Linked DNA regions of Homo sapiens: region 1 is linked to region 2. Evidence: fine-mapped expression QTL. A gene starts in region 2. The other region holds a variant in brackets. All regions are shown on one strand. Distances are from middle to middle. Region 1 overlaps TMEM43 (transmembrane protein 43). Region 2 holds the start of XPC (XPC complex subunit, DNA damage recognition and repair factor).

Region 1 (5,370 bases), 44 kb after region 2:
CGTCTGCAGTGTGCCTGCTTGGGCAGCTGTACTCTCCTGCCCCTGGGACTGGAATCGGGGCATCCTGACTTTTGCCCTGAGCTGCCTGCCTGGCTCTGGGCCTTTTTTCTACTTGGCAGAGACCCCAGACCTTGTGTGGGGGTGGGGGCTGGGCTGGGGGAAGACAGGGCTTTGGGGCTGCTAAGCAGCAGGAGACCCAGGGGGTAAGGAGGCCGCCTGAGCATCTGCACTGCAGGGCCTTCCTTTCTGGGGCATTACCTAAGCCATGGGCCCCATCCACTCCTCTCTGGAGGGGCGGCTGCGTGAGCTGGGCCTCAGCCCTGGGAGAGAGAGCAAGGCCTGGACTGGGCCTCCTAATTTTAGAAACTCGCTGGGGACCCTCAGCTGCTGGTGGAAGGGTGACTCATGGCCTTCTAGGCTGGGAGGTGGCAGCCCTACCCTGAGGTTGGTAACTGGGCTCCTGGGCAACAGCCTGACCACACCCTAGCCCTGGCCAGGTACCAGGAGTTGGTGAGGCCCAAGCACCACCACAAGCTGGAGGCTAATGGGACAGATGGCTGCTGAGGATCTAATAATAGGAACAAAAGGTCACAGCTAACCCCTGATGCCTGTCTGCTGCCTTGACCCTTTCTGGCCACTCTGGAATGAAAACCCCAGCAGTCCTGGTTAGGGCAGGTATAGAGTGCCCCACCAGGGATACCTGTGTTCATCAACAACAGAAAAACTAAAGACTCAATTCTTCTGCTGCAGAGAAGGATTGCCTGCCTAGAGAAGACAGGCTAACTTTTAAGGCACAGAACTGAACTAATCAGCACATCTTGGCACCCCTTCTCCTTGGGACCCGGGGTAGGCATAGCCCTCCCTATTTACAATGGGAGAGGGATACTCAGGTAGCTGAGGCCCAAAACCCTTCCCCGCCCTCCTAATGTTCTGGAAGGACACAGACTTTGGTGGAGCCCCCCCACCCACTCCCTCTCCCCGCTCTGGGCTGTGGCCACAGCACTCCGGGTGCCCCCTTAGAAGGTGAACCCTTTCGTGCCCAGACTGGGCTGTTCTTGCTGGAACTGACTGATCACTGATTCTTCTAGGGTTAACCCCTTCTCGTCAGCAAAACTCACTTGTCAGAGGCCCTGCTTGATCACTGCAGAAACGGATGTTCTACTCTGACGTCCACTGGTATCAGAGCACCTGTTCTCCTCTTTCCAACACTCGGCACGATGCATCAGTACTTACGAGTTTCTGTCACTCTCACTCCTCTACCGGACAGTCTGTGAGGCACAGTGAGTTTAGTGCCTAGCACAGTCCTGCACACTGAGGGTTCATGACAGACTCAGCATCCACAATCCAAAAACCCAAATGCTGAAGTGCTCCAAAATCCAAAACTTTCTGAATGCCAACATGACGCCACTAGTGGAAATCCCACACTTGACCCCATGTGACGGGTTGCATTGTATAAAATCACCTTCAGGCGATGTGTACAAAGTATACATGAAACATAAATAGATTCTGTGTTTAGACTTGGTTCTCATCCCCAAGAGATCTCATTATGTATATACAAATACCTGCAAATCCAAAAAAATCTGGAATCTGAAACACTCCTGGTCAAACACTTTGATGAGGCATACTCAACATTCCGCTATTTCTTCTTCTTGCCTCATTCACTGGCTATGACCCCTGGTAGTGTGATCTTATTAAATAACCACTGGAAGGAAGGAAGGACATGCTTGTTCCTCCACCGTACGAGTAGGGCACAGCACTCACCTCTGCTGAGAAGTCCCCGTGGTGCAGGAGCAGTAAGGTATCCCCAGACTTGGTGGAGAATGGGACTAGCTGGTCACCCCGCTGCCGGGCAATCACAGTGACCTGGTCAGAGGACCTGGTGTTAGAGCTGAGGGGTGACCAGCGGGAGACACGCCCACGAGAGCCATGGCCCACCCTCCCGGGACTGGGTGCCGGCTGGGGAAGTGAGCACAGA[A/G]ACCCTGGGGCTTCTCTCTCTATACATCCATCTGGGATGCATCCACCTCTGCAGCTCTGGCTGAGCTGCTCCATTCAAAGCTCCAGGCATTCAAAGCTCTTGGGCAGTGCGCAGAGCAGGGGATGGGGCAGGACTGCACATAGGCCAGGAACGCAAGACCAATTATTGACAGATCAAAACGGGCTTGGGGAGAGGGTCTGTGTGTGACTGGAACACCTGTCATAAGGTGCGACTATGAGACCCCTTTTGAGCTGCCCTTCTTAACGTGGGGTCCATGGATGGCTGTGGGGACATGGGAGCTCTGAAACTGCTCAGAAGCGTGCCTGGCTGAGAGTGTGTGCGAGAGTGTGCCTTTCCCCAGGGAAAAGGGGGTCCAAGCGCTCCTGACATTGACCAAGGTGTCTGTGTCCAGGAAAGTCGTGAGGCTCTGACTTAGTGTCTGCCCCTGGGAAGCCAGGTTACCACGTGAGCTGGGCCCAGGTCAGGGTCATCGCCGCTCAGTCCAGCATAGGAAAAGGAGACACGCAAGTCTCCCACCTGGGGGTGGAAGAGAAGCAGGGAGAGTGAGGAACGGAGTAGCTGGCCCAGGCCCAGGTCCAGGATGCCTCGGCTACGCCCCTCAGGCTCTTCTCCCACCTCCACACCCGTGCCCAGGCTGTGCCGTCACCCAGAGGGCCTCTCCCACTCAGCTGCACTTGGCCAAGTGCAGCTGTGCATGCGACTGAACTGAATCTGCCTGGCGCAGGAACCTGATCCTAGCGCCCTGACCCTCCTATTTGGAGAGCCCAGGCCTCTCCGCACACCTCTGGATACTTGGGATTTTCGCTGTGGTAGAAAAAGTCTCCACGGCGAATGATGTCCACATGAGGGTCCTCCAGCTTGGATAGGCTCAGGGACTTGAAGTTGTCGACTTTGTCGATGAGGCCTGAGGGGACCAGAGTGGTTAGAAACCCAGGGGACCAGGTGAAAACCTCAATCTGCAAAGTCCCTGGCCTGACCCCCTTCCACTGCACCCCTGGAGCCTGCACACGTGGCACTCCCACCTGCAGTGCCTCTTTCTGACTCTGTCTCGTCCACGGCTTCCCCTGGGTTAGACCATCTCCTCCAGGAAGCTTTCCCTGTGCCCTCTCCCACCAAGTCAGAGTGACCACAGCACTGGGAGTGGCCTTAGCCCTTTTCCCTTCCATCAAGGTTACGGCCATCCACGTCCAAGCCTGACTCACCTCCTGGGTTGAGAGCTACTTGAGGGCAGGCCCAGCTGGCACACAGGCACCATCCAGCAACAAAGCACACAGAAAGCGGCCAGGCCAGGCCCAGGATCATCCAGCCTCCCCAGGACTATCTGGGCCCTTGGTATCCTCTCCCACCTTCATGGGTCAGGCCCAGGAACAGAGCCCCAGGGTTACTCTGGCCCATGGTGCCACCTTATCCCTTGCAAGCTTCTCTTTGGAGTCAATGGGGGATGCCTGTGATAAGCTAGTGCCTTCCTGGGACAGGTGGAACTCAGAGAGGGGGAGCCCTAGGCTGAGAGCACTGAGCCACCACATGTCTACTACTAGCCGGAGTCTGCTTGAGGAAGGACTGTCTCAGCAGAGTCTACTCAGCAGACACCGGCACGCAGCAGGGTGAGGATGCATGCCTGAGTCATTCTCTGGAACAACCCAGATTTCAGAGGAACCTGGTAGGATGGAGTGGGGTGGGGGTTTCTACGTCAGCCCTTGCTTCCTGGGGATTCGCCTTCCCCTGGCCCCCAAAGCATGGTGCTGGGAAAGGTGCAGACTGATCCTGTGCCTTTAGCCCTCTGAAGGCTGAGTACTGGGAGCTCCGGCCCTAGGGGGGCCTTGTGCTTCTGGCACGAGCTCCTCTGGAGAGGCCTGAGACTTACCTGACGAGAGGAAAAACCTGCCAATTTGGACAAAGGGGGCTGTTGCCATGAATGACTCCACTGCCATGGCACTGTGGGAGAGAGGAAGCTGTCAGAGATGGGCACCGGTGTGGGAGCTGCCCGGGTCCCTTTGGGTTGTTTGTGCTGGGCAGGGTCCCCACCCGGGGGTTCCTGCAAGTCCAGATTAGCCCAGGCGCAGCAGACATCTTGTCCTGTCCACCCCCAGGGGCCCTGTGCCCCCTCCCCTGGGCTGAGCACCCTCACTCTGTCTCCTGTTCCCCGGAGCTTCCTACCCTCTTGCCTAGACCCCTGCCAGCCTGTCCTGCCCCACCCACTGCTGTCAGATGTATCTTGCATGGACTTTACACCCCTCACTAGCCCCTCCCAGAGCATTCCATCCCAACCATCTTACTGGCACAGCCCAGACCATTGCTGAACAAGGCCTGCTCTCTAGCCACACCCAAGTGTTATGCCCGCCTCACCACTGGCATGCCGTGGAGCTAACCTCCCTCTGCTGAAATCCTGAGAAGCCTGAACAAATGCCGCTGCCTCTGGAAAGCCTGTCCTGATTGTCCTCCCACCCATGGCAAACCATTAACAAAATGCTTCCCCGGCCCCGTGTGTGCAAATCCCCTTAGACGCTTAGTGCAGGCCTTATATTTGTGACTTGTTTGCGGGGAGCTTGTCTGGGGTCAGGGGAGACAAGTCTCTGTGTTCCTGGTGCCCAGCACAGGGCTTGGTCTCAAACCCATGTCCCACATTTTCAACCCACGAGGCAGGATTAACTCAATCCTGTTATTCAGATGAAGAAACTGAGGCTGGAGACCTGCCAGTGTAGACAAAGCTGCACTCAGGCCTTGGGCCTGGCTCTCACCTGGGGTTTTTGTGGCCAATCTCTCGGTCGAAGTTTTTGCTGTTGATGATTTCTGACCTCCATTCAGTGTCTGCTCAGGGAGAGGAATCAACTCAGAGCCCGGGTAGGAGTGGCACGCGGCTGAGACCCACCAGCCCAGCTCCTCCTATCTCACAGCCAAAGGGGTGGGTCAGGGAGCCTCAATGGATGGGTGGGAAAGCAGGGCTCTGAAGACTTGCACCCAGGGATCCTGATGCCTGGTGCTGAATCCTTCCCATGGCCCCACCAACAGCCCTGCTGTCCAGCCACCACTGTGGGCCCCCACCATGGGCAGAGACCACGTAAGGGGCCCAGCACTCACTGTAGGAATACCTCGTCTCCTTCTTCACCTGCCCATCCTCGGTGTACTCCCTGCAGGGAAAGCAAAGCAGCCACGGGGGTTAGCCTCGTCGCCCCAGGCAGTCTAATCTCTAAGCATCTGAGCAGGAAGCAACCTCAGGGCTACCAGATCAGACTCCCCAGATACGGCAGATGCCTTCTCTACACCAGCCCCAAGACAGGGCACTCACTCCTGACAGACAGCCAGCTCCTGCCCTCCAAGGCGCTACCTGGAGGAAAGCGCTCTCCCATCCTGAGCTGAAATCTGCCCGCACTGGC
Region 2 (5,370 bases):
ACATGAAGGCTTAGAACAGAGCTTTTCACATAATACGTGCTATATAAATGTAGGTTAAAACACACATACATGAGAAGTTACACAGCAAAATAATCATGACTATACTTTGTTCCCTCAAAATCCAAACTGCCTGACCCAATTTCAGGGCATAGGGTCTCAGGGACTTTAGCTTTATCTCAAATATTATGTAATCATTGGAAAAACACTCACTTAATGCCTACCATACACTAGTCAGAATGCCAAATAGAGGTGTAGGTTTATGGGAAGATTATGAATTCAGCACAGGTTGAGTTTAGGCTGCCAACTGGTGAATAAGATAAATATATTTAGTAGCCAGTATAGAACACTGGTTGAAAGCACTGGCTTAGCCGGGCATGGTGGCACATGCCTGTAGTCCCAGCTACTCCAAGGGCTGAGGTGGGAGGATTGCTTGAGCCTGGCGAGGTGGAGGTTGCAGTGAGCCAAGATCGTGCCACTGCACTCCAGCTTGGGCAACAGAGTGAGACTCTTGTCTTTTTTTTTTTTAAAAAAAAAAAAAAAAAAAAAAAAAAAAAAAAAAAAGGCAAGCAAGCACTGGCTTTGGAGTCAGGCAGTCCGGGTTCAACTCCTGGCTGTGACCTGACATTTATGAACTGAGATTAAAAATCATGCCATCTGTAATTCTCAGATTCTTCATTTGTAATTGAGAAAGCCACAACCTTCTTTCTGGGTTCTTATGAGGATTAAACTAGTTAATGCATTTAAAAACAGTGCCAGGAAAACAGAAAATATTAATATTTAGAAATGGTTCCTATTGGCCGGGCGTGGTGGCTCACGCTTGAATCCCAGCACTTTGGGCGGCTGAGAAAGGCAGATCACCTGAGGTTAGGAGTTTGAGACCAGCCTGGCCAACATGGTGAAACCCCATCTCTACGAAAAATACAAAAATTAGCCAGGTGTGGCGGCACGCACCTGTAGTCCCAGCTACTTGGGAGGCTGAGACAGGAGAATCACTTGAACCCAGGAGGCAGAGGTTGCAGTGAGCTGAGATCACGCCACTGCACTCCAGCCTGGGCGATAGAGTGAGACTCCATCCAAAAAAAAGAAAAGAATAGAAAAAAAAAGGAAAAGAAAAGATTCCTATTAATATTATATTATTACAGAACTGCTGGAAACATTGGTTTTAGAGGTCAGGGCTAGGATGACTTGGGGTCACCCACATGGAAGGGATGGTTGCAGCCGCTAAGAGTTAGAAAGATTATTCAAGGAGAGCTTCTTCAGTAAGTACACAAGGCCAGTGGAGGAAGGTAACTGAATTGGTAACAGGCTCTGAAGATTCAAAAGGCCTGATGAGAGAAAAAAATAACCTAACTCAACTGGTCCCTATGTCCCTCAGTTCAACAAGTGTTTGTTAAAGGATCAGATAACCAACTGTTAGATTACAATGATAGAGAAGTCACAATCCCCACCCTCAAGGAGCTCATTCTACTGTGGAGAGGCATACAAATAATTATAATACTGTAAGAATATGCACATGAAAAAGCCCTACTGCTACCTAAGCCTCTGTCTGGGATGCCCACTGTCTGCTCTTTTCATCCTGTAGCTTTAAATATTGGCTTCTCAAAGAGGCTTCCTCTGATCATCTAACTCATTCACTCAAATATTTTTTGAGTGTTTCCAGCACTGTTCTAAACCCCAAAGACAAAAGAATGAACAAAACAAAATCCCTGCTCTTATGGCATTTACATTCTAGTGGGGAGAGATTCACATTAAACAAAGATGCATACATTTAATATGAAAAAATAACTCTCTATGAAGAAAAATGAGGCAGGGTAACCAGAGTAGCGGGAGTGCTATTTGGGCAGAAGTCCTCTCTGAGGAGGTCAGATTTCAGTAGAAAGTTTAAGTTGTGGCATGATCTCCAAAGATATTTGAGGAAGAAAAAGACCAGGTGAAAAAGCTTCTAGGACCATCTGTTATTCTGCATACCAGTTCCTTGTTTCCTTCACAGCACATCACAGTTCCTGGAAGTCTTACATATTTATATTTACTTTTATCTGTTCTCCTCGCAAATATAAGCTCCAAGTAATGGCAAGGATCTCTTATATGTCGATGTCAGTGTCCCTGGCCCTTAGAACAGTGCCTAACCATACAAAGCTGATGTTCACTCTATCTGCTGAATGAATAAATAATTGTTGCGCTCACTAATGATAACAACTCCTAACTTTATTACCTGGCTTTCTATTGGAATCCTGACAGCTCCATGAGGTAGCTAAGGATAATAATCTACAGATTTAAAAAAATGAAGCGAAGAGTGTGAGAATAGTCATCAGGTGGGCTTCTAACAGGAAAAGGTCTCAGGGCCTACGGCAAAATTCGGAGGGGGGGTTACGGAAAGGACAGGGTGGATTAGGCCATGGTGACTTGGAGAGAGGAGGCACGACTGGCCATTTTTCCTGAGTCTGGAAAAAGCAGCCTAGTACAAGAAGCTCCTTCGAGCGACCTCCTTAAAATACACTTACCTGGTCTACGTCGTCCGCCATGTTTCAAACCCTGCGCCCTTTCCCGCCTCTCGCGAGAACACAAGAGCAACGTCAATCTCCGGAAACGTGAGGATACAATACACCGGAAATAGAGAGAAACCTGTTGTGCTCTTTCCTGCTTCCCGCAGTTTTTTAGTGGCCACGGGTATGGGGTGGAGCTTCCTTTAGGGGCGTGACTAGGCCTCCAACGAAGGGGCGTGGCCAAGCGCACCGCCTCGGGGCGGGGCCGGCGTTCTAGCGCATCGCGGCCGGGTGCGTCACTCGCGAAGTGGAATTTGCCCAGACAAGCAACATGGCTCGGAAACGCGCGGCCGGCGGGGAGCCGCGGGGACGCGAACTGCGCAGCCAGAAATCCAAGGCCAAGAGCAAGGCCCGGCGTGAGGAGGAGGAGGAGGGTGAGAGCGAGGCCCAGCGGGCTTCGCGGGAGACGCCGCCGGTGGGCGGAGGAGGCCCAGAGGCAGGGCGGGAGTCCAGACGCGGAGGCCTGGTGGAGGTTGCTGCGCGCGTTCCGCGCCGTGGGGGCAGCCCGGCAGGCTGCGGCCGGCCCTCCCCGCTGTCCCCGCGTCTTTGTCCTGCGCACCCAGAGCGGTTTCCCGCGAGCTTCGCCCGATCCAAGCTCCTGCGTAGCTTTTTTCCCGCTCCCCGTTGTCCAGAGGATACAGATGTTCAGGGTTGAACTCGGAGAAGGCAGTTATTTGTGTCCCAGGAAGACAGACGGACGGACCAGGACGTAGAGTGATGCAGTGTGCTGACTCCCGAATGATAACTTCAGCTGAGTCTCACCCAGAGTTCCACAGTGGGATCCCACCTGACTTCCCCTCATGGATATTTGATAGGCTTCTTACATTTGTCATGGGCAATGCAGAACTCATGGTTTTCCTCTTTAAATCTATGCTTTCCTCCGTTTTTCCAGTCTCAATACTTGTTATAAAGCAAAGCCCACCTTTTTCTTATGTCCACACATCCAGTCCGTCAGCAAGTCCAGTCAGTTCAGCCTCAAGAGTGTATTTCAAATTTGTCCACTTCTCTTCATTTCCATGACCACAGCCCCTGTCCAAGTCATCATCACCTTTCAGTTGAGTGACTGCAGTTTCCTCTTTACTGGCCTCCCAGCTCTGCATCCAGCAACCCAAATAATCTTAAAAAAAAAAAAAATCATGCCCTGCTCCTGCTTTAAACTCCCCTTGGTTTTCCATTGCTCTTAGCTTAAAATCCAGTTGTTTTATCCTGGCCTACAAGATACTACATGTTTTGGCTCTTGCTACCTCTCCTGTTTCTCTTACCACTTGTTTCCTTGCCAGATACCCTCCTTATTGGCCTCCTTTCTCTTCCTCAAATATGCCAAGTTATTCCTTGAGTCTTTTCCTTTGATGTTCCTTCTGCCTAGAGTGAACCCCCCATGGCTTTTACCAGGGCTGATTTTTTCTATTTCTTCAAAACTCAAGTTAGACATTCCTTGAGCAAACTAAGGTGGTCCTTCCCAGATACCCCGCGGATACTAAAACCTGTGATGCTCAAGTACCTTATATCAAATGGCCTAGTGTTTCCATGTAACCTATGCACATCCTCCGACATACTTTAAATCATCTCTAGATCACTAATAATACCTAATACAATGTGGATACTATGGAAATAGTTGTCATGCTGTATTTTTTAAATTTGTATTTTTTTTCCCGAAATATATTCATCTGTGGTTGGTTGAATCTGTGGATGCAGGGCCCGTGGATTGGTAGGGCTAAATGCTAAATAAATATTTTATTTATTTTTTATTTTTTTCGAGACAGTGTCTCACTCTGTCGCTGAGGCTGGAGTGCAGTGGCGTGACCTCCGCCTCCTAGGTTCAAGTGATTCTCCTGCCTCAGCCTCCCGAGTAGCTGGTGTTACAGGTGCCTGACACCATGTCCGGCTAATTTTTGTATTTTTGTATAGATGGGGTTTCGCCATGTTGGCCAGGCTGGTCTCAAACTCCTGACCTCAGGTGATCCGTTTGCCTCGGCCTCCCGAAGTGTTGGGATTACAGGCATGAGCCACTGCGCCCGGCTAGTAAATATTTTAAATAATTGCAAAATGCAGGCTGTAGAAGGAATTTCTGGGTCTCCTGAAAAAACTGGGTAGATTAGACTAGGTAACCGGCAAAGGCTATCACACTAGATTCTGTTTCTATACCGGTTATAAATTCATCATCCATTAGGAAATAGTGAAATGGTAATAATTCGTAAACTTAGGAGGTGATTTACCTCATATGTAATATTACGAGTTCCATTTTATTCACTCATTTACTCATTCAAATAACATCTTTTGAGTATCTACTATGTGCTGTACATGAATGAGGTGACATGAGAGATAAACATATCTTGGAGGATCATAGAGTAGTGTTGACATGACATTTACATGTAAAACATTCAAGGCAAAGTGTGCTAAATATTGTGGAAGAAGGTACAAGGCTTTGTAGCTTCCAAAGGATTAATCAAGTTTGACTGGCGTGATCGGGGAACGCTCTCTGAAGTAGTTTGATCTGTGATTTAAAGGATGGTTGGTATTTTAGCAAGGGGTCACAAAAAGGGGCCGGTATTCTAGTCAGAATGTAATTTGGATATATGGCAATTAAAAATTTACGGTTTTAATCTGATGGAAATGCTACCTGTATTCTTCCCAGCTCAACACTTCACCTCGGTTCCAGCTTGGTAGAGCTTCAATTCTTAGTTTTATGCACTTGGGTGAATTATTTTGGACAAATGTTTTAGCCCTTCTGAATTTCCTCTGTGAAATGTAATAACTGCCTTGCGGGGTGGCTGTGAGTTTTCAGTGGGATAGCATATAAAGCCAAGAGCTTTAGCTTTACCCATGT

The links. PIP is the estimated chance that this variant, and not a neighbour inherited with it, causes the effect.
Region 1: its variant is the best candidate, but not a certain one, in a credible set for the expression of XPC in atrial appendage (GTEx, PIP 0.68).

Annotation. Positions count from the first base shown.
Region 1 is chr3:14,132,300-14,137,669 of GRCh38, reverse strand. TMEM43 (transmembrane protein 43) reads right to left here. Exons shown (of 12, transcript NM_024334.3): 5 at 5,075-5,124; 6 at 4,735-4,804; 7 at 3,861-3,931; 8 at 2,779-2,900; 9 at 2,438-2,512; 10 at 1,762-1,863. Among named protein-coding and RNA genes, the nearest start is that of TMEM43, 9.9 kb to the right of the region's middle. The variant A/G (reference allele first, on the strand shown) is at 1,976.
Region 2 is chr3:14,176,013-14,181,382 of GRCh38, reverse strand. It overlaps XPC (XPC complex subunit, DNA damage recognition and repair factor), which reads left to right and starts at 2,782. Exons shown (of 16, transcript NM_004628.5): 1 at 2,782-2,917. The coding sequence starts at 2,815. LSM3 (LSM3 homolog, U6 small nuclear RNA and mRNA degradation associated) reads right to left here and starts at 2,566. Exons shown (of 4, transcript NM_014463.3): 1 at 2,502-2,566. The coding sequence starts at 2,522. RefSeq lists enhancers at 2,473-2,522, 2,623-2,972 and a silencer at 3,023-3,142.